2 separate regions of the Homo sapiens genome follow, and region 1 is linked to region 2. The links come from fine-mapping of genetic effects on gene expression. A gene starts in region 2. The other region holds a variant in brackets. All regions are shown on one strand. Distances are between the middles of the regions. Region 1 overlaps CEP350 (centrosomal protein 350). Region 2 holds the start of CEP350 (centrosomal protein 350).

Evidence for each region.
Region 1: its variant is fine-mapped to the expression of CEP350 in whole blood (INTERVAL, PIP above 0.99).

What each region holds. Positions count from the first base shown.
Region 1 is chr1:179,989,924-179,992,849 of GRCh38, reverse strand. CEP350 (centrosomal protein 350) reads right to left here. Exons shown (of 38, transcript NM_014810.5): 4 at 2,229-2,343; 5 at 629-788. Among named protein-coding and RNA genes, the nearest start is that of CEP350, 37 kb to the right of the region's middle. The variant TAC/C (reference allele first, on the strand shown) is at 1,193.
Region 2 is chr1:179,953,529-179,956,454 of GRCh38, reverse strand. It overlaps CEP350 (centrosomal protein 350), which reads right to left and starts at 1,645. Exons shown (of 38, transcript NM_014810.5): 1 at 1,313-1,645. RefSeq lists a silencer at 1,211-1,660 and an enhancer at 1,448-1,949.

The sequences.
Region 1 (2,926 bases), 36 kb before region 2:
ACTGAAATCATTAGTAAAGTGTCCCTCAAATACAAAATTCTGTAAGTTTATCAGTTGAATATCTTAAGCTATGTTAACAAAAATGCAAAGCATTTTATATCATCTATGCTATCAAAATTCATACATCAATCTTGAACATCTAAGTTGCTGAAAGCCATTGGCAACAAAATAAAACAATAAATCAACTCACATTCTCAATAAGATAGGAATTTTATGTGACTAATTAATGCTACCCAAAAAAAAAGAAAAAAAGTAAGCAATATAAAGTTCACTATATAAAATAAATGATCTGAGATATTAAGACGAAACAAAAAAGCCACACTTCCAGAGATGGAATAATTTGTTTCTAGGAAACGTATTTATTACAATAAAGGTGGCTTGAGGCAACTATTACTATTTCTTCCCCCTCGAATATTTATCTGCAGAAGAGGCTACTGCAGTCAGTATTTCATGTTTGCACTATCTTTTGTAGCCATCTTTTGTGGAGAATGAAAAAGGTAGTAATATTAGAGTATTATACTATTTCACAACCAGAGTGCTATAAAAAACTCAGAAAACAACGTATACTCTTACTGTAAATATTACAGGCTAAACCTATTTGATACCTTTTTTTTTTCTCAATACTAACCTATAAGAAACCAAAGGTTCACGAAATTCCACACGATTATTTTTCTTCACATTACTCTCCAGGGTGGTGGCCCTGAGAGGACTACGAGATTTCTCTTTTCGTGATTTAGTGGATTTGGAGATTGGAGCATTAACCCAAGAATCATCCAGGTATCTACCATCTGAAGGAAAAGGAAATCTGTGAGAACATATAATATAAAATACAACTGCCTCTGAATTAGGCTGGTATCTTAAAAAAAAAATTAGGTATCTATTATTTCTAATAGTTGGATATTATATAAGTTATCTCTAGTATCTCTAGTTGGATATTATATAAGTACATGAAAAACATTCAGGTTAAATTGTTAAAGTAACTCCATTGATACAGAAATTGTATTCTGAGGAAACAATGCAAAATAAAATTCTACACATAAAATTTATTTTTTGTCATGGCTCTCACTCACTTAAGAGAGAAGTATCATATACAACCTAACAAACTCCCAGGTTAAAAAAAAATGTATATATATATATATATACACACACACACACACACACACACACACACACACACACACATATATATATA[TAC/C]ATATCACAGTTTAGGTAGAGAGTACTGACATGGAGGTTTTCACCCACCAATTAAGAAACCACAGAATGGCCTGGCATGGTGGCTCACGCCTGTAATCCCTGCACTTTGGGAGGCCAAGGCAGGCGGATCACGAGGTCAGGAGTTTGAGACCAGCCTGACCAACATGGTGAAACCCCATCTCTTCTAAAAATACAAAAATTAGAAAGGCCCGGTGGCGCGGCTACTCAGGAGAATCGCTTAAACCCAGGACGTAGAGGTTGCAGTGAGTAGAGATCATGCCACTGCACTTCAGCCTGGGCGACAGAGTGAGACTCTGTCTCAAAAAAAAAAAAAAAAAAAAGAAAAGAAAGAAACCACAGAATCAAAATACAAAAGGTAACCCAAGAAAAATTTGCATTGTATCAATTTATGACAGTCACCATATGAAAGAGATTCCATTTATGATTTTAAATCCCAAGAAAAATATACGTTAAGTCAACTAAATTTCATTTCCAAAGTGCTATATATCTGTGAATTAAAAAAAAAAATCAGACATATATAACCTCAAAATGAAACTCTCATCACTAAAAACAAATGAAAACTCATTGTCAAGGGTGATGCAATAGTGCTAAAGTCCCTGGTCAAAAGATGGTGAAAACACCATCTACGGTTACTGAACATGAGGCTGCTTCATAGCTACCAAATATCAAAGGAAAAAAATTAAATGCCAGTGTCTCTGACAAAAAAGCAAACAACACGAGACTGTAAGAAGAAATCAAACTGAAATAAAACTATTACATCAACAACTTATATTTAAGGTAGAGTGTGGTAGCTACACCTATAATCCCAGCACTTTAAAAGGAGTCCAAGATGAGAGGATTACTTAAGGCCAGGAGTTCAAGACAAGCTGGGGCAGCACAGAGAGACTTCGTCTCTACAAAAGATAAAAAAAGATTAGCCAGGTGTGGTGGCACACCCCTGTAGATCTAGCTGTCTGTTTTGTCAAAATTTATATTTAATATATGTATATATTTGGAAGTAACTTCATACATACCTTTTCTACTTATTTTTCGAGTAGCACTTGTAGAAGACTTCTTGGTATCCATGACAGAATCACACACAGCTGTACTTGTAGGGGCTACTTCTAATTTATTTTCAATGTGTCTCAGCTAAAGTTTAAACACCATCATAAGACATAAGTTAATTCTGTAAATAATCCAGCTACCATCAATTTACATGGTTATTTAAAAGTATATTGCCCAATACCTTTTTCCAAAGTAGAAAAAAACTCAGGAATCCTTTCTTATAATATTTGTTTTTCATCATTTTTTACTTTAGCTATAATAACATCTGGCACAATGCTCCCCAAATTTAGACAAGAAAATCAGTAAGATTCTGAAGAATATCAAAGAGTTTCCATTTGACATGTTGATCTATTTTTTAAATTGTTGAGTATTTTCAAAGTAGTAAATTATCTGACTTTTTTTTTTTTGAGACGGTCTCGGTCTGTCGCGCAGGCTGGAGTGCAGTGGCGTGATCTCAGGTCACTGCAACCTCCACCTCACGGGTTCAAGAGATTCTCCCTCAGCCTCCCTAGAGGCTGGGATTACAGGCGTGCGCCACCACGCCGGGCTAATTTTTGTAGTTTTAGTAGAGATGGAGTTTCCACATGTTGGCCAGGCTGGTCTCGATCTCCTGACCCCAGGTGATCCACACACCTCAGCCTCCCAAAGTGCTGGGATTACAGGCGTG
Region 2 (2,926 bases):
AAAATCAAAGAAATATGTTCACATACGTATGAAATTTTTTACATATACAACTTGCCATCTCTACATACACAAAATTTTGCTACTGAGGATGAAGAGATACAGAGATACACATGTATTTATCCACATATACAATGTATTCTAGCTTGAAGTTTATTTTCAGATTACAGTATCTTAAATTTAATGCACTGACAGTTCAAATGATTCAGATTTATTTCATTACATTAAATAAAATTTGTCAATTTAGCACACCGAAACTAATTATTATACGCCCATGGCTTTGAAGCAACTTCCAGCATGGGTCTAACAATCCCTCAAAGTCACAATTCCATGTCATTAGCAGTGCATTTCCTTGTTTAAAAACAATATATTAAACGAAGAAATTTTCAGAATGGAGGGCAACTTTTAGTATTTTATCATTGTTTCTACAGAACTTTTCAGATTGTTACTAGCTCTGCCAAAGATAGTCTTTCTTTTAAAACTCTTCAAATACAGGGCAGGAGGTATCGTTAACATGGCAACAATAACGACTTCCCCAAATTCAAAACAAGGATCACCATCAAAACAAAACAATCAGGTGGAGTACATGGATATTGATCACTATTTCTGACAACCTGTTTTTTCCCATATGAAGGATTTGCTACTGCATTAAAACATTAAAATCTATGCCTATGTGCAACTTTCTATCTGAATATTTAAAATCCAGGCAAATTCCAATTCATATCTTGTGACATTAGCTAAATATTACTTAGCATGTTGAGCTGCATTTAAAAGGCAGAGGAAAATACTGACAACTTCCAAAACATAAAGCCTTTTAAATCTTTCCCCAAATTATCTGTGAATAAACTACCTTCAGCAGCCGCTAGACTAGAGTAGATCAAAGTTTTCCCTATACTTGAGAATGTGATCCCCACTGAAAAGGAACAGAAACTGATCATCCCTGCCACTGGAGCCAGTCCCCGGAATCTCCCCAAATACGCCTGATCGCCAGATGAAGAAGGGACACTTCTCCGGGCAGCAAAGGCTAGAGGTATCTTACCTCTGCAGGCTAGAGGAGGGGTGGAGGAGGCGGGAGGACACTGGCACGTAAGGAAGGAAATTCCGTCTTCAGCAGGCACTGGTGGGACCCGAAACCTAGGTCCCCGAAAAGCCTCAGAACCCAGGGAGGTTCCCCGAGGGGGACGCCAAGCAGGGCCAAGACTCTCCGCGCCCGGCCCCGCCTCTCTTGCCGCCACCGGGGACCCGGGACCGCGGACAGAGACAGTTGAGGCTGAGCGAGACTCCGCGGTCCCAGCCAGGTCCTACAGGAGCTCACCTGAGAGTGTCGCCTCCGCCCTCGGCTACCACGGTGCATCCCGCGGAGCCTGGCGGAGGGTGCAGTGACGCCGCCCCGACCGGCCCCAGGGCTGCCCGGCCTGGCCTCCCCGCTCCGGGGACGCACCGGGTGCCCTCCTCGCACCGGCTCCGGGGATCCGCCGGTCCGCTGGGAAGGAAGACAAGGCGGAAAGGCTGCCTCCCCTCCCTCAGGGCAAGCCACCCCCCGAGCTGCGGCTCCCTGCAGTTCTCTCTGGCGCAGGTCTGGCCCCGCTCCCCGGCCCGGGAGTCACTTCGTCAGGGGCGGCCCAGTCGCCATTACAGCCCAACAACTGACACGGAGGAGGAGCGGCGCCAGCGGCAGCGGCTGTGGCGGCGGCGCGAGGCAGGGCGGGAGCAGTCGGGCCCAGGCAAACCTCGCGAGAACTGTCCCGAGACAGTGCCACAGGCATGCCAACCTTCGGTTAGGGCCATGTTGAGTGTGGCCGAAAGGTGGGAGCGAAATAAAACAAGGAGCAGAACCGCGAAGAAGCCATGTTTGGTGCGTCGAAGTTTAAACTCGTAGGACTTGGGAGGAGCCAAGGTATATCCGCAGAAGAGACCACCCCTGCCCTTTCGCTTTGACGCTCATTGGGCCTTTTGGCTGCGCATTTCACCCCGGGCTGAGAAAACAAGCTGGGGATTCGACAAGAATGAACTCAAAGTCTGGAAACGGCAGCTTCTGAGAGTTTACAATGTTTCACCAACTGTCGTCCAAATAAGTCGTCACCCCTGTCAGAGTAGTTGCAGCTCTGCCGTTACCCACTGCTGTCACTGTGGCCGTTTTATTCGCGAGGGTTACAGTTCTGTTTAGCATGCATCTAATGACTTAAGACTCCACGCAAGTAAAACGGAGTTTCCTCCCATTAAGTATTGGCTTTGCTTTAACAGTGCTTTGAGAGGCTCTCTGTGGCCAACATATCTTCTCATATCTTTGTCCTCGTTTCCCAATCTCCGCGTGGTGAAATCATCTATCAAGACTTGGCTTAAAGGACCTCTCTTCTGCAAATAATGCCATCTTCCGCTAGGTGCTCACTGCACACAGACTCGCCGCCCACCACTTCTGTCCACCTTCTGAACTCCGATAGTTATTTACCCAGAGACTGTTTCTCATCTTTAAGTGTCGTGAAGACTTTAAGATCTGTTTTATCTCTCTATACCCCAAAATGGCCTAGCACAGTAACTAGGACATTGTAGGTGCTCAATAAATGTTTGTCGAATATCAATGACAGCAGGAGGCAGTAAATGGTCCCTCTTTGTAGGGCCTACAGCTGTGCCTGAGTAGGATGTACAGAAGTCCTGCATACGTGTGAAGTGTCTCCAGGAAGCTGCACTGGAGGGGACAGGAAATGTGGGTAATCGTATGGTGCAAGTGGTAGCAAAAAAGACAACATAAGGAAAATGTTATTTAGGTTTTGCCCAGTCTTGCTGTTTAAAGCCCTGTGTTAGATGCTTTTCATGCGCTATTTTACTGAATGTAAACAACCACCTTATTAAATATACTCACTTTTTTAAAACGAAGAAACACGTACTGGCCGGTCACAGTGGCTCACGCCTGTAATCTCAGCACTTTGCG